3 linked regions of the Homo sapiens genome follow. The protein of the gene in region 3 purifies or fractionates together with the protein of the main gene of each other region. This does not show direct contact. Each region holds a gene or a part of one and is shown on either strand. Other genes may lie near its edges. The genes, in order: POLD1, POLA1 and POLD3.

Region 1 (7,107 bases), on a different chromosome or scaffold from region 3:
GAGCTCTTAGGGCTGAGGCTCAGGGCAGAGAGGGGCCCTTCCTACCATAGGCTGCAGAGTGGCAGAGGCAGGGCCTGAACCCACAGCTGCCCAAGCCGACTCTTTCCACTGCTTCACCACCGAGGAAGAGCTGGGCCTGACACCTGTGTTCCCAGAGGAGGAGGGGCTGGGGGTCTGGACTCTTGTATCTAAGAGAGGAAGGGGCTGGGGGCCCTGACCCCGGGATCTGAGGAGGAGGGGGCTGGGGGCCTGGACCCGTGGGTCTGAGGGAGGAGGGGCTGGGGCCTAGACTCCTGGGTCTGAGGGAGGAGGGGTTTGGGGCCCAGCCCCCTGAGTCTGAGGGAGGAGGCCCCACACACCGGTCGATGAGCAGGCGGCGCAGTGAGGCAGTGACCAGGTTGGCCACGAGGGGGCAGTTGTCCCTGCGCACGGCCTCCAGGCCCTTGCAGTCCATGCGGTCGTGGGCGTCGGGCCGGGAGGAGAAGAGCAGGCCCGCGTAGCGCTTCTTGCTGATAAGCAGGTATGGGAAGTAGACCTGGGAGGGAGCCATGGCCAAGACCCTGAGCCTGAGGAGGCCAAGCCCCAATCTGGAGACGCCCCCCAGAAACTGAAGGTAGACAGGGTCCCAGACGCAGTTTGAGGACATGGGAGCCGTGCCCTGAGCCTGGTGGGATGGACCGAGACACTGTATGGCTGGAAGTGGCTCCTGAGGCCCCTCGGCAATGCCAGAGCCCCCACACCAGAGACCCCAATCTGAAACAGAGACTGGGATAAATCCAGATAGTCCCTAAAACATGAGATCCAGACAGGCGAGTCGATGAAGCATCCCATGAAAGAGAGGAGAAACTACGGCTGGGTGAGCCCTGAGGCAGAGACCTCCCCACTCTGCGAGGCTCCAAGTCCAAGGCCTGGCACGAGAGAGCGTTAAGCCACGGGGAAACAGTACAGTGTGAGAACTGGGCGTGGCGGCTCAGGAGGCCAAGGCGGGAGGATCGCCGGAGCCCAGGAGTTGGAGGCTGCAGTGAGCTGTGAACTCGCCACTGCACTCCAGCCTGGGCGACAGAGCGAGACCCAGACTCTTCAAAAGAAAATATGGTGCAAGGTTTCCTGGGACCAAGTGTGCCGCACTCAGAGGGCCAGGGGCAATGGTGCACAGATCTAAGGTGCACCCCCATCAGGGTCCCTGCGTGGAGGGCAGCTCCACATCTGACAGGTACTGGGAAACCTCAAAACCAGGGACACTGTGACACCTCAAAACCAGGGACAGCGACAGGGTTTTCAAAGAACAGATGCCATCCAGGGTAACAAAGCCCAAGGCCTTGGAGGCTTCCCAAACCAAGGCCCCAGCCTCAGGAGAATCTAAGCAGCAACATCCCTTCACACTGTGGCTTTTGTGAACCCAAAGAACGGGACACCCTGAGTACCCTGATGAGGGCACCTAAATGCAGAGCCCCTGACCCAGCCACGCACCTTCTCAAACTCCAGCCGGATGGGCGACGGGAAGTGACCTGACACCCAGTCCGCGGCCTCCCGCCCCAGGGCCATCGCCTCAGCCACCGAGGACACGCCGAATCGGCACATGACGGAGTCAGTGTCACCATACACCACCTGCGGGCGGTGGGGATGTGTGTATGTGAGAAGCAGGGTCCCTTCTGTCAACTACTGGTGTCGGGGGGTGGCAGGTGGCTAATGCCAACGGGACCCAAGGATGCAACAGGAGAGTGGGCAGGGTGTGACCAGGAGGCACGGGGACATGGGGGTCCGGCCCGGCTTCCATCCCCCCACCTGCCCTGGGCCCATCTCAGGGCAGCGGTGGGCAGCCCCCGACCTTGGCACTGGTGCTGTAGCCATTCTCCACTGTGTACTTAGACTCCACCAGCTGCTTGGTTTTCTCGATCATCTGACGTCCGAACCCCGTGACGCTCTGTCGGGGAGAGAATCATGCGGAGTGAAGCCCTGGGGGCCATGTGCAGTGAACGTGGGCCGGCGGGGGAGGGGTCCCGCCTCTGCCATTTCCCAGTGGCATAGGCTTATGTACAAGCCACTCTGCCCCTCCTGGGCCTCAGTTCCCAAATCTGCAAAATGGGACTATAAGGCGGCTCCTCAATGGTCAGGTGGAAAGAAGTGGGTTCCCTGGCTCAGAGTTCTGGACATGCACAAGGAAGTGACTACATCAAATGCATGCTGGAAAGACTGCGGCCTGAAGAGGCCACTGGCCCAGTGTTTCCCTCACACTGACATTCTGGGCAGCTCTCTATGGTACAGGACCACCGACATAGCCAGCCCCATCCCTGGAAGCCAGCAGTGCCACCCCCATCCCTGTACCACCAGAACTGGCCCTACCTACACATTGACAAATGCCCCCCAGAGCAGGGGGTGGCACCACCCTGACTAAGAAACCATTGAGAAACCCACTGTCTTATTTTAGAGTTAAGAAAACTAGCTGGCGTGGTGGCTTATGCCTGTACACCCAGCACTTTGGGAGGCTGAAGTGGCTGGATCACTTGAGGTCAGGAGTTCGAGATCAGCCTGGACAACATGGTGAAACACCATCTCTACTAAAAATACACACACACACACACACAAAACTAAAAAATACTTAAACAACAACACCACCACCACCACCACCACCACCAAACCTGAGGCTGGGGGTGGGGACACCAAGGAGAGATGGGTGTGATTCTTCTGTTTTTGTTTGTGTGGATCCAGTCAGGAAATCTGTCTAACTAGAGCATTTTGTCCATTTACATTTAGTGTAATTACTGATATAGCTGGGCTTACGTCTACCACTTTACTGTCTAGCTTTTACTTGTTCCACCTGTCCTATGTTCCTTTTTCTTTCCTTTGTAATCTTTTCCTGAAATGATTCAATTTTTTTTTTTTTTTAAGAGACAGGAGGCCAAGCGTGGTGACTCACACCAGTAATCCCAGCACTTTGGGAGGCCGAGGCAGGTGGATCACCTGAGGTCAGGAGTTCAAGACCAGCCTGGCCAACATGGTGAAACCCCGTCTCTACTAAAAATGCAAAAATTAGCCAGGCATGGTGGCGGGTGCCTGTAATCCCAGCTACTCAGGAGGCTGAGGCAGGAGAATCACTTGAACCCGGGAGGGAGAGGTCGCAGTGAGCCAAGATTGTGGCATTGCACTCCAGCCTGGGTGACAGAGCAAGACTCCATCTCAAAACAAACAAACAAAAACTAAAAGAGACAGGGTCTCAACTCTGTCACCCAGAATGGAGTGCAGTGATGCCATCACAGCTTACTGTAACTCAAACTGCTGGGTTCAAGCCATCTTCCCGTCTCAGCCTCCTGAGTAGCTGCAACTACAGGCATGAGCTACCACAATGCCTGGCTAGTTTTGTTTGGTTGTATTTTTTGTAGAGATGGGGTTTCACTATGTTGCCCAGGCTGGTCTTAAACCCCTGGCCTCAAGTGATCCTCCCTCCTCAGTGTCACAAAGTGTTGGGATTACAGGCGTGAACACTGTAATTCATTACTTTTTTTTTTTTTTGAGACGGAGTTTTGCTCTGTTGCCCAGGCTGGAGCGCACTGGCGCAATCTCGGCTCACTGCAACCTCTGCCTCCTGGGTTCAAGCGATTCTCCTGCCTCAGCCTCCCGAGTAGCTGGGATTAGAGGCACCTGCCACCACTCCTGGCTAATGTTTTGTATTTTTAATAGAGACAGGGTTTCACCATGTTGGCCAGGCTGGTCTTGAACTCCTGACCTCGTGATCCGCCCGCCTCGGCCTCCTAAAGTGCTGGGGTTACAGGCGTGAGCCACCGCGCCCAGCCAATTCATTGCATTTTTATTATTCCACCTCTTGCTCCCATAAGCTTGAGAGACAGAAATAAGGAAAGAGGTCAAGAGACAGAAACAGAACAGTGACAGAGGGAAGCGGCTGAGAGAGAAAAGACAGAGACACAGGATTGGTAAGAGGCAGCCCCAGGGGAGGGCCAAGCTGTGCTCTCTTGGCCTGGCCTCTGCTTCAGGGCTAGAGCCTGATGTCCACACAGCCACCCCTTTCCACCAAGGAGGCTGGGGAGGCAGCCGGGGACTGTGAAAGGCAGAGGGGAGTTGGGAGCATGCAGTGAGCGATTCACTTTGTGCAAAGAAAGGTCTGGCTCTTGCCTGGCTCCTGGTAGTCTAAGCCCCTAGAATATCCCGCCTGATAACAGTGTCTCTGTTCCAGCCTGGGCAACATGGCGAGACCCTATCTCTACAAAAAATAACAAAAATAGGTGGCACGTGCCCGCAGTCCCAGCCACTTGGGAGGCTAACGTGGGAGGCTCACCTGAGTCCCGGAGGTTGAGGCTGCAGTGAGCCACGATTGTGCCACTGCGCTCCAGCCTGGGTGAGAGAGTGAGACTCTGTCTCAAAAAAAAAAAAAAAAAAGGTGTTTGTGTACCTGGGACTTTGAACCACACCAGGTAGTTGACACTAACATGGTTTATGGTAGGGCCCTGGGCCATGCAGTATCAGTTTGACCTCTGGGGGTTGCTGAGGGGCCTGGGGATGATGGAGTCACTAAGGCCAGTCACAGGGTGCTCCATGCCTATAGGACTGACACCCAAGAAAAACCCTGGACCCCAAAGCTTGGGTGAGAGCCTCTGGTTGGCAATGCTGCATGTGTGCAGGCACGCATCAAAACTGGGAGGAAGGAGGGCCAGCCTGGCAACTCTACTGGGAGAGCACAACTGGAAGACACGCCTGGTCCCTCCTATACCCTGCCCTGTGCACCTCTTTCTTTTGCTGAGTTTAATCTGTGTCCTTTTGCTGTATTAAATCATAACCATGAGAACCAGCTTTTCTGCTCTCTGAGTACTTCTAGTGAATCACTGAACCTAAGTGGTCTTTGGGACCCCCAGAACTGCGGGTGGGTGGGTGTGTGCAAAGGCCCCACCCACTGAGAATTCATCCAAGCCTTCCACCCAGAGCCCTGTGAAAAGTGGCGCAGTGCCCAGCCAGAGAGGGAGCTCCCCGTGGCTAGAGGTAACCAAGCAGAGCAGCACAACTACTGGCCTGGAATGGGCCAAGACTCAAGTCCCAGGGGAGAAGGCTGGACAGGAAGACCCTTCCGAGGCCCTCATATGCCAGGAGCTGGGGCACTGACCCCAGCTTGGCAATCTCGGAAACTCAGGCCCTCTGTGGTTTCAAAGAATCTGTTTTTCTGTTCAAGCAGCAGAGCTGCCGTGGGTAGGCAGACCGGGACGCTGCCGTGGGGACGGTGAATGGCTTCCCTCCCCACGTCCCTTGGCCTCTGTGTGAGCGTCGCCTATTGAGAGGGGTGAGTCCCGCCCAGCCCCATCACTCCCCGACAGTCCGCACCTCCTGCTTTATCCGGCTGCAAAGCTCGTAGCGCCACTTGTGTCCTAAACACGTTTACACAGACCTGTCAGTGTCCCCACTGGGCTGCAAGATGACAGGGACAGGAGCTCTCATCCATTTTGTTCCCCTCTGTATCCCCAGGGCACAGAGTGAGCCCTGACCACAGTGTGTGCTCAGTAGGCATTTGCTGAGTGAAGGAATGGACCAATTGCTCAAGCCACATTGGCATCCTCTCTCTAGAAGGCCAGTGAGTTGGGGTGCCCAGTCCTCTGGATACAGGTCCCCCACATGGAGCCCTGGTCTCCTACACAGGGGGCCCACCTGCCCCCAGTTGCCTTCCAGGGGCCCGAGTGCCCACCTGTGAGATCTCCAGGCACGGCAACTTGCCCACCTGGGCGCCAGTGAAGCCGTATACGGAGTTGGCGCTCACCTTCAGCGCCAGCTGCCGTCCATCCAGGACCTGGCGCCGGAGGGGGTCTGTCTCCTTGGCCAGCTCGGCCTTGGCCCTGCGAGGGAACACGGGGAAAGCACACTCAGGCGGCACCTGGGCATTGGTCAGGGCTCCTTTCTGGAAGTGAGTGCCATGTACGGTTGGGCGTACTGTGCACTGCACAGAAGCTTCTGGCCAAGGGGGCAAAAGGAAGCTGCCAGGAGGGGATGCCTTGTGCTAATTCACGCACAGCTGAGGGCAGGGTGGCTGGGCAGCCCTGGGGTGTCCCAGTGAGGGACAGGGATTGCCCAGAGGCCCCAACAGGTCTGAGCTCCAAGCAGGCGATCTCCAGGGCTCACCTCTTCCGGGCACTGAGCAGGTTCTCCAGGATCTGGGGCAGCAGCCCCTTCCGCACTGAGGTCTTCACAAACTCGTCCCCGGTGGGGGTCCTGATGAACTGATCCTCAGTCAGGCTGGGTTGGAAGATGTTGGGGTGACTGCCGGCCACCCTCCTGCTCCAGCCCACCTCTGCCCTACGGTCCTGGCCTTGGCCATGAGCACACGCAGGCCCCTCAAGCACCCCTCCACTCCCTACTATCTCTGGGCCTGTGCCTATGCCCCCCACCAGACTGAGCCCCCCAAGGGAAGGCCCAGATGGGCCTCGGGGGACACATGCTGAATTGGGCACTATACCCCAGTTTCTGTGCAGTCCCGGGCCGAAGGAGCGTGGTGTAACACAGGTTGTGGGCCATCATGATGGACGGGTACAGCGAGGAGAAGTCCAGGGTGGCGATGGGGACGTCGTAGTACCTGGGAGGGGAGCAGCCGCGGCCGGGAGTCAGGGCTAGGAGTTCCCATGCCGCCCCCGCCCTGTCTTGTGGCCTCACCCTTTAAAAAAAAAAAATCATTCATTGGCTGGGAGCAGTGCTCGCTCCTGCAATCCCAGCACATTGGGAGGCTGAGGCAGGAGGATCGCTTGAACTCAGGAGTTTCAGATCAGCCTGGGCAACATGGCAAAACCCTATCTCTACAAAAAAATTTTAAAAATTAGCCAGGTGTGGTGGTGCACGCCTGTGGTCCCAGCTACTCAGGGGCCTGAGGCAGGAGGATTGCTTGAGCCTAGGAGGTGGAGTAAGCCAAGATCATGCCACCGCACTCCACCCTGGGTGACAGAGTGAGACCCTGTGTCAAAAAAAGAAAAAGAAAAAGAAAAATAATATATATAATTAATCTACTATTTTATTTTATTTTATTTTTTTTGAGACGGAGTCTCGCTTTGTCACCCAGGCTGGAGTGCAGTGGCGCAATCTCAGCTCACTGCAACCTCCACCTCCCGGGTTCAAGCGATTCTT
Region 2 (7,107 bases), on a different chromosome or scaffold from region 3:
CAAAATGGATGAACCTTGAAAACATTATAAGTGAAATAAGCCAGATACCGAAAGGCCATATAATGTATGATTCTATTTATATGAGACGTCCAGAATACACAAATCTATAAAAGCAAAAAGATTAGTAGTTGCCTAGAGGTGGAAGGGATGGGGATTGAGGGAGGTGACAGCTAAAAGGTTTCTTTGGGGAATAATGAAAATATCCTAAAACTCATTGTGATGATGGTTGCAAACTCTGGGAATACACTAAAAGCCACTGAACTACACACTTCAAACAGGTGAAGTATATGGTATATGAATAATACCACAATAAAACTATTTTAAAAAGACACAGATCTTCCTTCTTTAAGCAATTTTTTTAAACTCAATTTCAAGAGTCCCAGGTTAAATACAAACCTCTGTAACTTTCTGTGCCTCTGAAGCAACTCTTTGTACTGTTGTAAAACAAATGTTAAATTCCTGAATGATGGAAGGATATAGACTGTTGAAGTCCAGAAGCAAAATGAACTTATCATAAAAACCTGAAATTAAAAAGCCACGTCATAAAAAGTCTAAAGAAAAGCAGAATTGTCAAAACATCATTATTAAAAGCACTGTAAGTATATTAGAAACTATATACTATCCATATACACTACCCAGAGCTGTGAAACAGACAAAAAGGGAAAAAAAGAATCAACTACCATTTCATAAAATGATGCGGATTAGTGAAAAGCCAGATCACAAAAGAAGAGGGAGAAAAAGATCCTGTCTCTCTTTAGAACCAGCTACAACCAGTCCTTTCCCCAGCTGTCCCCAAAGCACACCATTATTATGAGCAAATACCTTCCCAATCAGCTATCTGAGACGTGTCACATCCATTAAAAAAAAAAAAATGTTCAACTCTCCTTCAAAGCAAGAATTCTTTGAAGAATCCTCCTACCTACTCTCCCACCCCCCACCCCAAATAAAACCAAGTGAGTGGTTTATTTTTATTTTTATTTTTTTTTTTGAGTCAGAGTCTCACTCTGTCTCCAGGATGGAGTGCCATGGCGCAATCTCAGCTCACCGCAACCTCTGCCTCCCGGGTTCAAGTGAGTCCCCTTGCCTCAGCCTCCCGAATAGCTGGGACTACAGGCGCGCAACACCGTGCTCGGCTAATTTTTTATATTTTAGTAGAGATGGGGCTTCACCATGTTGGCCAGGACGGTCTCGATCTCCTGACCTCGTGATCTGCCTGCCTCAGCCTCCCAAAGTGCTGAAATTACAGGCGTGAGCCACCGCGCCTGGTAGAGTAATTTATTCTTTTACAACAGCTTCAAAAAATAAAATGGACGGCACATTTACCTGTACAAAAACTGAGCTAAAATCAAACAAGAGACACATATATATAAATGTCAGTAGTGGAACGACCCACCCTTTTTACTTGCAAAGGAAGAACAGAAAGCTACTATATTTCTGTAGGACATTTACAAAGAGTTATCTTCACCTTGAGAAGAAACTGAATAAAAATAAATGTCCACTATTAAGACAATAATAATTGCAAACATATAGGATAGTTTATTCTGTGTCCAGCACTATACTAATTTATCCTTAAATCCCTGTGTGGTAGATATTACTCTTAACTCTATTTTACAGAAGAAACTGAGGCTTACAGAGGTTAAACAGGCAGCCCAAGATCACACTGAATTCAAACCCAGACCTACATAACACCAAGTACTACTGCTCCATTTCATTATAACTAATAACAAAATCACTTTTGTCAAAAATGTTTCCTACTCAGAACTAACTTATTAGATAAAATTCACATTAATTCCTTCACAGCAATGTGAATATTCTTAACACTACTGCTGAACTGTACACTTGGGAAGGGTTGAAATGTTTTTTTATATATACAAAAAAATTAGCTGGGTATGCTGGCACACACCTGTAGTCCTAGCTACTCAGGAGGCTAAGGCAGGAGAATCGCTTGAACCCAAGAGGTGAAGGTTGCAGTGAGTAGAGATCGCACCACTGCACTCCAGCCCGGGCAACAGAGTAAAACTCTGTCTCCAAAAAAAAAAAAGAAAAAAAGAAAAAAAAATTATTTCTAGCTCTGTGTACCACAAAACATCTTTGCCATTCATGACAATAGGGAAAAAGATATTCTCCTATTAAAGTTAAATTTGGTGGTTATTGTCTGCACGTCCTTCAACTTTGCTGTCAACTGAACTGGTCAGGACAAACAGCTATCTATGTACTGGACAGCTATCTATGTATTAGACAAACTACGGCTACAGACCAAATCCAACCTACTTATTTTTGTACCACCCATGAGCTTAAGTATGGTTTTTACATTTTTAAATGGCTGGAAAAAAATCAAAAACAATATTTCATGACATATGAAAACTATATGAAATTTAAATTTCAATGTCTATAAATAATATTTTATTGGAACACAGCATAACAAAATTCACATTAAGTCTATGTCAGGTGACTGGCAACCAAGATTTTCACGTGAACGAAAGATAAAAGTCATGAGACCTATTCGCTGATCTATAAGATATAATTCAGTCTTCTAGTTTCTCAAGCCTAGATCCACATTAAGAAATTCCTTAATACTGGGAGAAAACCAATTCACTGCCCAGCCTTACCAACTTTGGGGTCCAAAACCAAGCCTCCAGCATAAGCTGCTTTCTTACGTCCTTTCTTGTATTTATTGGTATCTCCATCAATTTCTTCATCTTCATCTCCCTAATATCAAATGGAAAGATAACTTCACCAGCCAGCAACTAATTAACTAATTTAAAATTTTGATGATTCTCTCTTTTCCAATTGCAGGACTTAGTTCTAACAAACATTTCAGTTAGTGGTCCTATCTGTTGGGAAAGACAGTTATTGTAATATGTTCACGAATCCAAATGAATCCCAAGCATAGTAATTTCTTAAACAAATACTATATCCTGAGTTAACAAATATGAAAATTCTATTTTTATGTGTTTTTGAATTTACAGAATTTCATATTTTTAAATCAATGAATATTGAAAAATACCACTTTTCATGTTATATAAAATTTGAGATTATAAAACAGCCCTCTTAAAATCACTACTCTAACATTCGTGATGTAAAAACATAAAATACTTCATGCAGGTATTATCATTATCCCTATTATTAATATGGACACCATAAAACAAGTACATCCATATACTGAAAATCCATTCCTAAGTAGTTTATTACTGGCCAACATTCAATACCTCAGCAGAAGTTAAAGTCCTCTAAATGAATATGCCCTATACCAATTTTGATAATGTACATTAAAAAACAAGCAAATATGAGAACCTGAATCAAATTCTAACATTCAATTCCCATTTCTGAATTAATTAATATCAGTGCTAATAAAACAGTAGCTAAACTAAGTTTTAGTTCCAAAGTGATGGAGGCTACTTCAGAAACCTGACTGTGGGTGACCTTGGTCATACTAGTACAGAAAAATGCAACACAAAAATAAAGGCTCATAGGTTTAAGAAAATAAAAAGTTTAACTGGCATTTATCTTTGGATAGGGCTGAGGTGCCAGAACACATTCCATGTATGGTCACCCATCAGAGAGGTCTAATGCTTCCCTCAAAGAATTTCACATTTCACAAATAATTTTGTCTGCACAAAGTGCATTTTCCTTTTACAAAGTGGAAAAGGAAATGACCACACAAAAACAAGGGAATAAACTTGACACGGTTTCTTTAGTACACAAGGGATTAGCTATTTTGAAAGCAGATGTTATCACAGAAAAAAAAGGCTATCTAGGTATTAAAAGGGGGGGGGGGGTTAAGAGAAAACAAAATACTACACAGTTTTGGACCCACCAGTTTTTGCTGAGGCTTTCTGAAAATCTGCTTGTCAGGCACAATATAGTTGTTTTCGTAAAATGCATGAAGCAACAAGAACTCGTTACGCTCGGATCGTCCACCCATCAGCGTCCTGGACTATTAAATGGAATTTATTTTTTAAATTTGAGCTCAAAACCACAACTAACAAAAGCAACTTTGAGTCAGTAAGTTTAGTCACAGCACCTCCTTCAAAACTATTCCTAATAACGGTCTGCTTTTTTTTTAAAAAAAAAAAAGGTACTAAATTATTCCTAACGTTTTCTTTAAGCATTATAGCTAAAGGAGACAAAGAGAGCTTAAAATATTGACAACTTGGCTATTTATTTACTCCCAAATGGACCATTCCACTAAAAAGACACATCCAGATGTTAGAGAGATGATCCGTATGTTCACCCAAATTTCAACACGCTGCACCTGGCATTCCTCCCCTTCTCCCAACCAGTTCTTCCTTTTACAAAAGAAATCCAGCTTTCAGAATCCAAGTTACTCATTTTATAAGCATGCATTTAGACTCATTATCATATAACAACTACCCCAAGCAAACACTGAATCCAACAGGAAATGCTTTTTCCCCCTTTCTAAGTTAAATTTACCATAATGTTCCCAGCGATGTTAGTGATCTGCAATGCTAATGGAAGAACATTTAGCTCACACATGATCTGCAAAATGAACTTGGCATCTTTCCAGGTGTGTTCCAACAGGTATAACAGTTGAGAAGATTCACTGTACAGAAAAGTAAGAATGAAACAGAATCAAGTAATTAAAAGAAACAATGCCTATAATCAGAACTTCACAAAATATTATAAGGAATTCTGGGTGTAAGTAAATTCAGAGCAACAGCACCTTGGCTTCAGAAACAATTTAAAATAAGGTCAGTATGTAACTAGGAATTCATTCATACCACTGATCCCAATGCTTTTCTCCAAAACACACACACACACACACGCGCGCACACACACACACACACACACACACACACACAAAATCCCATAAGGAAAAACTGAAGTAATATAATAACTACAAGCCTGAAAACTACCTAAATCCTTTCATTCATTCCATCCAGTGAGTATGTATTGCATGCTTACTATATGCCAGGCATTGGCTGTGACCAAAACAAACAAAACTTCCTATCCTCCTGGAGCTTATGTCCTCACGGGGGAGACAGAGTATAAAAAAAAACAAAGAAATTAAGTATATAGTATGTTATATAATGTTAAAAGTTAAGCAACGGGAATATTAAGTATCAGAAGCAGAGACTGAAATTTTTGTTAGGAAACAGTGGAAGATTTTACTGAGAATGAAGATCTTGAAGAGGTGAGGGAGCAAGCCTTATGGAAAGAGCATTCCAGGCAGACAGGATAGCACATTCAAAAGTCCTGAGCTGCGTGCAAATCTGACAGTTCCAGGACTAGGAAAGAGGCCAATATGGCTAGATCAGAGAGAATGATGGAAAGAGCAGTACGAGATAAGGACAGAGTTAACGACATAGAGACACATTGTAAAGGACCTTGTAAGTAAAAATAAGGACTTTAGTTTTTACTCTGAATGAAACAGAGAGTCACTGGAAGGTTCTGAGCAGAGTATCACATCTGACTTGATTTTAGCAGGATAACTCTGATTCTGGATTGAGAATCGACCACAAGGGGGTAAGGGCAAAAGTAAGGGGATAGGCATATAAACCCAGTAATCCAGGGGAAAGAGGATAGCAGCTTGGATAGGATGGGTCCAATGCAGTTGAAAAGAAGTGGTCAGACTTAGATCTATTTAGAAGATAGAACTGATAGGATACCCTGATGCATCTACTGTGGGATATCAGAGAGAGGAATTAAAGATGCCTCAGACATGTGGGGCTAAGTAAGACTCTGGAAGTTTCCAGTGATAATGGAAAAAATACACCTATTAATTTAGTAAGGAAAGACTATAGGAAGAACCTAGGATAGAAGATCAGAGCTCAATTTTGAACAAGCTGGGAGTTCACATTAGATATCAAGTAAAATAGGTAAAACAGATACACTGAGTGTGGAATTTAGGGAGGTCTAACCTGAAGATACACAGGTGGGAAGCATAGCCATCCCATGGTATTTAAATTCCTAAGACTCAATGAGATCACCTAGAGAAAGAACAAAGTCAGAAAAGAGAAGTCCAAGAAAGAACTCAGGAAGAACTAGCAGGAATGAATGAGAGATGGCCAGAGGAGTAGGAGGAAGAAATAAGCAAGCAATACCTCTAACTTAATGATTGCTCAGTTTTTATATTTCTAAAATATCTACCCTAATTCCTGAATAAATGAATTAAGAGTAGAAATCTAAATCCAAACTACTGTTAGGAAACATCAAGATAGTGTTAACACAGGTGAGGGAGACGGAGATAAACTGATCAATTACAATAATTCAAGAGGTAAACTAGTTCAAATTATGAAAGTAGTAGAGACAATTTCCCCTCTACAACACCACTGGCTCATGTCCCTCCAGACTAAGGATAGTACTAGTAGTGTCCTGCTGTTGTTAATTTCAAGACAGATGAATTCTGAAGAATCTAGGATCATACCTGTACATATTTTGTATATTTTCCATTGGGATTACAACCCTTTCAGTTTTTAGAATCTGCTGAACAAGTTCAGACAGATGGTAGCTTTTACAACGAATCAATTCCTTTGCTGAAATTTCCACATCACAGATCATTCGACCACAGGTAGCATTTCTTTCACCAAATCCACTCCGGCCCTACAAGATGGGAACAAAAAGCAAACTTCATGAAAGAGCAGACACTGAGAACATTTCTTTCTAACCTATTTTGAAGCTGGCCCAAAATTATGATAAAACTCTCATTCTTCCATACATCAATCAAATATTTTTGAACATTTACTATGTATCTGACATTATTCTAGGCACTCAGGATACAGCAGTGATCAAAACAGAAAGGATTCCTGGCCTCATTTGAAATGTATAATAAAAAACAGACATCATAAACAAGAAATTATATAGTTTTAGGAGGTAACAAGTGGATGGAAAATGGGAAAACAGCAGGGTGAGGGGTACAAGGAATACGGGGGGACTGCCATCTTAAATAGGGTAATGGGGTATACCTCACTGAGAAGATGCCACATAAAGAAAATCTTGAAGGGGGTAAAAAGCTAAGCAAGTGTTCAGATGAAGTGCTAATAACAACTCTACCACCTTAAAGATATGAATAAGAAAAGAAGCAAGAGCAGTGGCCCCAACTTTGATCTGTAGTGGCAGAATCCTCTAGAGAACATTACGAAAAAG
Region 3 (7,400 bases):
GCTTCAAAGCACACCATCAAGAAAGTACAAAGACAATCCACAGAATGGGAGAAAATTTTTGCAAATAATTTTTCAATCAGGGTCTTGTATTCAGAATATATAAAGAACTCTTAAAACTCAACAACAACCAAAAATACCCAATGACAAAAATGGGCATAATTTTGAATATCTATTTCTCCAAAGATATGGCCAAGCAGCATATGAAAAGATATTCAGCAACATTAGTCATTAGGAAAATGCCAATCAACATAATTTATGAGATACCACTTCACATCCACTAGGATGGTTAAAATAAGACATAATAAAAAGTTTTTGCCAGGTGTGGTGATGTACACCTGTAGAGCTAGTTGGTAGGCTGAGGCGGGAGGATCCTTGAGTTCAAATCCAGCCTGGGCAACATAGTGAAACCCCATCTCAAAAAAAAAAAAAAAAAAAAAAAAGAGTTCATCCATGAGAAGTCTGAGGGAAAAAACAGTGTTAGTGTTAACCAGAATGTGGAGAAACTGAAATACTCATATACTGTTAGGACTGTAAGAAGCGCAGCCATTTTGAAAAATAGTTTGTCAGTTCCTCAAAATGTTAAATACAGAATTATCTCATGACCCAGCAATTCCAATCCTAGTTTGGCTGTGTCCCCACCCAAATCTCAACTTGAATTGTAATAATCCCCACATGTCAAAGACGGACCAGGTGGAGATAACTGAATTATGGGGGCAGTTCCCCCATGCTCTTCTCATGATAGTGAGTTCTCACGAAATCTGACGGTTTTACAAGGGGCTTCCCCCTTCGCTCGACACTCATTCTCTCTCCTGCCACCCTGTGAAGAGATGCCTTCCGCCAAGTCTCCTGAGGCCTCCCCAGCCATGCGGAACTGTGAGTCAATTAAACCTCGTCTTTATAAATTCAATCTCAGGTGTGTCTTCATAGCAGCATGAGAATGGACTAACACAAATACCCAAGATAACTGAAAATATATGTTCATATAAACACTTATAGATGAATGTTTTATACATGAATGTTCATAACAGCATCATTCATAGCAGTCAAAATATGGAAATAACCCAAATGTCCATTAATGATGAATAAACAAAACTTGTTGTATCCATATTACAGACTGAATCATGTCTCCAAAAAGGTAATGTTAAAGCCCTAACCCCCAATACCTTAAAATGTGACCTTATTTAGAAATAGAATTATAGCACATGTAATTAGTTAAGACAAGGTCATATTGGAGTAGGGTGGATTCGTAATTCAGTATGACTGGTGTTCATATAAGATGGACGTGCAAAGATACAGATATACAGGGAGAATGCCATGACAATGAAGGCAGAGATTGGAATTACGCAGCTACAAGCCAAGAAATACCAATGATTGCCAGCAAACCAAATTAGCTCTAATCTATGTAGGCTATCTGTAGAGTTAAAAGCAAAGCATAACAAAACAAAAAAAAATTCCAATATGATTAAAATTGGTAGTAAATTGGACTTACTGTTTGGCCTGGTTAACATGAACCCCTAGTGTATAGCTCAGCCATTTGTATGTCACCTGTAACAAGAAAAAATTTTTCAAATGTTTTATTAGATGACTCCAGAGTGCACATCAGTCCCGAAGGTCTGTTGCTAAAGATTCCTATTCTTAGATGATTATGCCTTACAAATTACAATAAATGCCACTGCAGTTTTCCCAAGAACTATCTATCTGGGTAGGCAGGACCTATTTATCTTAAAAATGCTAAGAAGTTTGTTTCATGAACTAATGAAAAGTAATCTAAAAAGACAAGCTGAACATACCTAACAGAAAAAACTCTCATTTTCCTCACATTCCTTGTTTTACTCAGGCCCTTTCCTCATGATGTTTTTTTTGGGGGCCACCAGCCAAAGCCATCCTAAAACTCATTCAGAAGCTAGATGACTTTGAAGTGTGATGTCTCAGAAACTTCTAAAGAAAGTTGCACCCATGCAAACATTAAAGGGCACAGGTGGTGCAGGGGTCAGGAAACGAAAAAAGTGGGTAAATATTTTTATAAGAGATTAGATTGGGAACTACCAGCATCAAGCCTTCATCCCTCCTAGACCCAGGATGCCTGCACTCTCTTCTCTCAAAGTCTCTTCCAATTCCAAATGTCAAGCTTCCAATAGTTAGAAGACTTGCACAGGTTAGGCAAAGGCAGTGTGATGTAGAAGAAAGCATTAGTAAGAGGACAGACCTAGGTTGAAAAACTGCCTATCCCTTACCAAACGCAAATAAACAAGTTATTTGGCCCCTCAGCTTCAATTTCCTCATCTCGGGATACCACCACCGACCTGGGATGGGGTGCGGGGAGGTCACTGTAAAGATTAAAGTGCCTTGGCACACAGCAGGCACTCAATCATCACGGTTTGCAAAGTGCACTCACATCCATCAATTCGCTCGATCTTTTCCTCACCCGTGTGAAGCGGATCAAACCTCTATCAATGCTTAAATTTCCAGGAAGAGGAAACAGTATCTGGAGGTTACGCAACTTGTAACTTAACACAGTTAAGACACGATTTCCTCAACTGTAAACTTAAAACTTTAAACGCCAACCACCTTAAAAGAAAGGTGTAGGGACGCCTTAGAACTCTCAGCCAACGGCCCTCCCTCCGCGCCCGGTCTCCGCGGCTCCAGCCCCAGGCTCTGTTCCCAGCACGCCCACCCAAGGGACGCGGACTTCCGTGTGTGCTGGAGGACCTTCCCGACGAGTCCTCGCTCGCTCTGGGGCACAGAGCTCGCCCAGGTCCCCTCGTGGGGACCTGTCTCCCCTGGTCCCCACGAAGCCACAAGCAGACAGAGGGTCAAGGCTCCCGCCGCCCTAGCCGGGCCCAGGACCCCGGTCGCACGCCCGCGTTCCCCAGTAGTAGCTGCTCACGATCTTGTTTTGGTCCGTGACGAACTCGTCTATATTTTCCAGATAAAGCTGGTCCGCCATGGTGCGGCAGCGCTGGGACCCGCCTCTAACCCCTCTCTCAATCACAGCCACAGCTCCCGCCGGCGGGAAACGTCTTTGCTCCCTCCCAGGTCCCGGGTCGTTTCCCCGGCAACGGAGGCGACGCACTACGGCGGCCCTCGAAGGGTCAAACTAGTCAGGGAGACGGCGCAGACGGAGGTAGGCAGAGCTAGTAGAAAACACCGAAGTGCGGGGCCTCCTGGCTGGTTTTTTCCTATACCTACGTACCTATGATAAAGTTTAATTTATAAATTAGGCACAGTAAGAGATTAACAAAAATAACTAACGATAAAATAGAACAATTATTATTATACTGTAATAAACATTAGTGAATATGGTCTCTCAACAGATGTCATTGGGTATAATATTTCCCTACCGAGGTTGGCTGCGCGTGATGAAACCCGGGAAAGCCAGGATAAAGGGGAGACTATTGAAAACAAGTAATTTTAGTAGTGCTGCCAACTGGGGAAAAGTACTGCCTGTTATAATCCCTCAGAGTTGAGAAATTAGGGAAGGTTTTTCCAGAGGGGTTGAGGAGAGGCTGAGTGTTTCGGATAGAAGCAGGAGAATTTGCTGGAAAAGAGTTCATTATCTCTGGATTGTTAGGAGAAGAGGCGGATGAGAGAGACTTGGGAGAAACCAAATCGTTGTGCCTAGGAGACTGTGAAGAGGCGCTTGAGCTGTGTTCTCAGGAAAACTTGGAGAAAAGTTATCAGGTTGGGGAATTTCAACTCAAATTTCTCCTAGTATCACCCCCGCAAAAATCTTTAATAATTGACTTCAGCATAAGCCGGTGCAGTTCAGTATCGCAGGTGTAGTGCGTAAGAGAGTGGGCTCTAGAGTCAGACTTACTGGGTTTGAATCCTGGTTTTGCTGTTTGTTGTGTAAACTTAGGTAATTCTTTAGCCACTAGGAGCCTATTTCCTTATCTATAAAATGGGAATAATAACAGTACCTACTTCAAAGGCTTGTCGCGACATGCATTCATTCAAAGCATAGCAAAATCCTGAGAAAGGCCAGATACTATTCTGAGTGTTGAGGTGCTGGGGCTGCAGCTATGAGCAATAATAAACCGAGCCTGTTCACATGTAACTTACATTCTGAGATTTTTAAGTGAAAGATAGTGGTGGTTTAAAATAGGGTAGCAGACCGGGCGCGGTGGCTAACGCCTGTAATCCCAGCACTTTGGGAGGCCTAGGGGGATGAATCACCTGAGGTCAGGAGTTCGAGGCCTGCCAGGCCCACATGGTGAAACCCTGTCTCTACTAAAAATATAAAAATTAGCCGGGCGTGGTGGCACGTGCCTATAGTCCCAGTTACTCCCAGGGCTGAGGCATGAGAATGTCTTGAATCCAGGAGGTGGAGGTTGCAGTGAGCCGAGATCATGCCACTGCACTTCAGCTTGGGAAACAGAGAGAGACTCCGTCTAAAAATAAAATAAAATGGCTCGGCGCAGTGGCTCACACCTGTAATCCCACACTTTGGGAGGCCGAGGCAGGCAGATCACCTGAGGTCAGGAGTTCGAGACCAGCCTGGCAAACATGGCGAAACCCCGTCTCTACTAAAAATACAAAAATTAACCAGGTGTGGTGGTACACGCCTGTAATCCCAGCTACTCGGGAGGCTGAGGCAGCAGAATCACTTGAACCTGGGAGACCGAGGTTGCGGTGAGCTGAGATGGTGCCACTGCACTCCAGCCTGGGAAACAGAGTGAGACCCCCCTCAAAATAAATAAATAAAATAAAATAGGGTAGCAGTGCCAGGCACAGTAGCTCACACCTATAATCCCAGCACTTTGGGAGGCCAAGGCAAGTGGATCACTTGAGCCCCAGGAGTTCGAGACCAGCCTGAGCAACATACTGAAACTCCGTCCCTACTAAAAAAAAAAAAAAAAAAAGCCATGGTGGCACGAGCCTGTGGTCTGTGGTCTGTGGTCCCAGTTCTGAAGTGGGAGGATGGATTGAGCCCAGGAGGTAGAGGTTGCAGTGAGCACTTGATCATGCCACTGCATACAGCCTGGGTGACAGAGTGAGACCCTGTCTCAAAAAATAATAATTTTTTTTTTTTTTGAGACAGAGTTTTGCTCTTGTTCCCCAGGTTGGAGTGCAATGGCGCGATCTCGGCTCACTGTAACCTCTGCCTCCCGGGTTCAAGTGATTCTCCTGCCTCTGCCTCCCAAGTTGCTGGGATTACTGGCATGCGCCACCACACCCGGCTAATTTTGTTGTAGTTCTAGTAGAGAGGGGGTTTCGCCATGTTGGCCAGGCTGGTCTCGAACTCCTGACCTCAGGTGATCCACCTGCCTTGGCCTCCCAAAGTGCTGGGATTACAGGCGTAAGCCACAACGCCAAACCAATACATTTTTTAAAATAGAGTAGTGGTAGTGGAAATTGAGAGAACTGAGTGACTTGAGTTTTGTTTTAGAGTCGGCAAAACCTGCTGATGAATTACACGAGTGGAGTGTGGAAAAAACAGGAATCAAGGAAAATACCTAGATATGGAACATAAATCTTTAGGTAAATGGTGATGCCCTTGACTGAGACGTGAAAGACTGGAAGCAGATGAGAAAATCAAATAATTCTATTTGGCCAGTTACAAATGAGATAATATACATAAAACTCTCATGCAGTACCTGCACACAATAAAATCTATGATCGTTGACTATTACGTTATTATATACCAGACCTACTATACCAGGTACTTTAAGAGCAATATTTCATTTAGTCCTCATAGCAATGCTGCAAATGTATTATATTGTCCATATTTTATTTTATTATTTATTTATTTATTTTGAGACGGAGTTTTGCTCCTGTTGCCCAGGCTGGAGTGCAATGGCGCAATCTCTGCTCACTGCAACCTCTGCCTCCCGGGTTCAAGCGATTCTCCTGCCTCAGCTTCTCGAGTAGCTGGGATTACAGGCATGCACCACCATGCCCAGCTAATTTTGTATTTTTAGTAGAGACAGGGTTTCTCCATGTTGGTCAGGCTGGCCTCGAACTCCCGACCTCAGGCAATCCGCCCACCTCAGCCTCCCAAAGTGCTGGGATTATAGGTGTGAGCCACCGTGCCCAGCCTGTTTATTTATTTTGTTTTATTTTTTGAGATGGAGTCTTGATCTGTCGCCCAGGGTGGAGTGCAGTGGCATGATCTCCACTCACTGCAACCTCTGCCTCCCAGGTTCATGCGATTCTCATGCCTCCACCTCCTGAGTAGCTGGGATCACAGGTATGCACCACCACACCCAACTGTATTTTTAGTAGAGAGGGGGTTTCGCCTTGTTGGTCAGGCTGGTCTTAAATTTCTGACCTCAAGTGATCCGCCCACTTCGGCCTCCCAAACTGCTGGGATTACAGGTGTGACCCACTGTGCCTGGCCATTGTCCATATTTTAGAGACTGGATTGTTGCGGCTCAGAGAGAAATAGATTTTTCCAGGATTATTAGGTGGTTGCTGTGGGATCAGAACTCAGGCCTCTTGTCAGTGCTCCACAGGAGTGGGAAGTAAGTCAAGATAATTAGCTAGGGAAGAGTCTTGATACTTATCCCTATGCCAAATGGAGCAGATGACAATGAGGTGGCTACATTGTCTGGGCTATATACCCTGGGGTTGGTAGTCTGGCACCAGGAAAATTTAGGACACTAACACACACGAAGAGTTTAGGAGCGGAGGTTTAATAGGCAGAAGAGAAAGAGAAACAGTTCTCTTTATATATAGAGAGAGGGGTCTCCTAGTGATCATGGTGGCAGATGCGCTGGACTTTATAGTCCAGCTTGAGGAGGCGGTGTCTGATTTATGTAGGGCTCACAGATTGTTTCGATCAGGTGTGACATTTACATAGCCCAGGGGTGAAGGCTGGTATCCCCACCCTGATCTTATGATGCAAATGAACTCTCCTTGGCTGGCACCATCTTGTCTGCTCCTTACTGTACATGTGGCTGGCAGAGAAGGGATGATGGAGTCGCCATCTTGAACATGTCTAGTCCCTAGTTCCTGCCCACATTCACCCGTGCAAGCTCCCAGCTTGCTTGTCTATGTCTGAAGCTCAACTTTACAGGCTGGTCTTTGTTAGAAAATGATTTGGGGCTGCTTTTCATGAAAAAGAAAAGCCTTACCATGGACTTCTATACCCTTACTATCTGCCTAAGTGATTTCTTCTTAACTCCTATATCAACCACACTGTTTAGAGTGCCCAGCCCAACCCAATGGACCTGCCAATATTAGGGTTGAATGACTTAGCTGGATTAGTGGTTACCCTTGGGAGGGTAGAAACTGGAAGGGAGTATGAGGAGGCTTTTGAGATGAAGGTAATATTCTTGATCTTGGTGCTGGTTGCATGGTGTGTTGAGTTTGTGAAAATGATTTGAGGTATATACTTTTGATATGTATAGTTTTCTATATGGATGTTTGCGTGAATCAAAAGTTTAAGGAAATTATTT

The links.
Region 1: the proteins of POLD3 (region 3) and POLD1 purify together in Homo sapiens (co-immunoprecipitation; 8 studies listed by BioGRID and IntAct, with this or other methods). This does not show direct contact.
Region 2: the proteins of POLD3 (region 3) and POLA1 fractionate together in Homo sapiens (co-fractionation; 2 studies listed by BioGRID). This does not show direct contact.

What each region holds. Positions count from the first base shown.
Region 1 is NC_000019.10:50,408,243-50,415,349, reverse strand, and holds part of POLD1 (DNA polymerase delta catalytic subunit), read right to left. Parts: intron 6,644-7,107; coding exon of another isoform or gene 6,566-6,643; coding exon 6,449-6,565; intron 6,229-6,448; coding exon 6,115-6,228; intron 5,832-6,114; coding exon 5,684-5,831; intron 5,410-5,683; exon of another isoform or gene 5,326-5,409; intron 1,925-5,325; coding exon 1,829-1,924; intron 1,609-1,828; coding exon 1,471-1,608; intron 536-1,470; coding exon 360-535; intron 1-359. UniProt on the Homo sapiens protein: As the catalytic component of the trimeric (Pol-delta3 complex) and tetrameric DNA polymerase delta complexes (Pol-delta4 complex), plays a crucial role in high fidelity genome replication, including in lagging strand synthesis, and repair.
Region 2 is NC_000023.11:24,738,832-24,745,938, reverse strand, and holds part of POLA1 (DNA polymerase alpha catalytic subunit), read right to left. Parts: intron 6,565-7,107; coding exon 6,389-6,564; intron 4,565-6,388; coding exon 4,435-4,564; intron 3,938-4,434; coding exon 3,818-3,937; intron 2,710-3,817; coding exon 2,610-2,709; intron 1,499-2,609; exon of another isoform or gene 1,369-1,498; intron 1,340-1,368; exon of another isoform or gene 1,046-1,339; intron 522-1,045; coding exon 397-521; intron 1-396. UniProt on the Homo sapiens protein: Catalytic subunit of the DNA polymerase alpha complex (also known as the alpha DNA polymerase-primase complex) which plays an essential role in the initiation of DNA synthesis.
Region 3 is NC_000011.10:74,588,206-74,595,605, reverse strand, and holds the start of POLD3 (DNA polymerase delta subunit 3), read right to left. Parts: upstream 3,025-7,400; 5' UTR 2,948-3,024; coding exon 2,888-2,947; exon of another isoform or gene 2,402-2,887; coding exon of another isoform or gene 2,396-2,401; intron 1,546-2,395; coding exon 1,490-1,545; intron 1-1,489. UniProt on the Homo sapiens protein: Accessory component of both the DNA polymerase delta complex and the DNA polymerase zeta complex.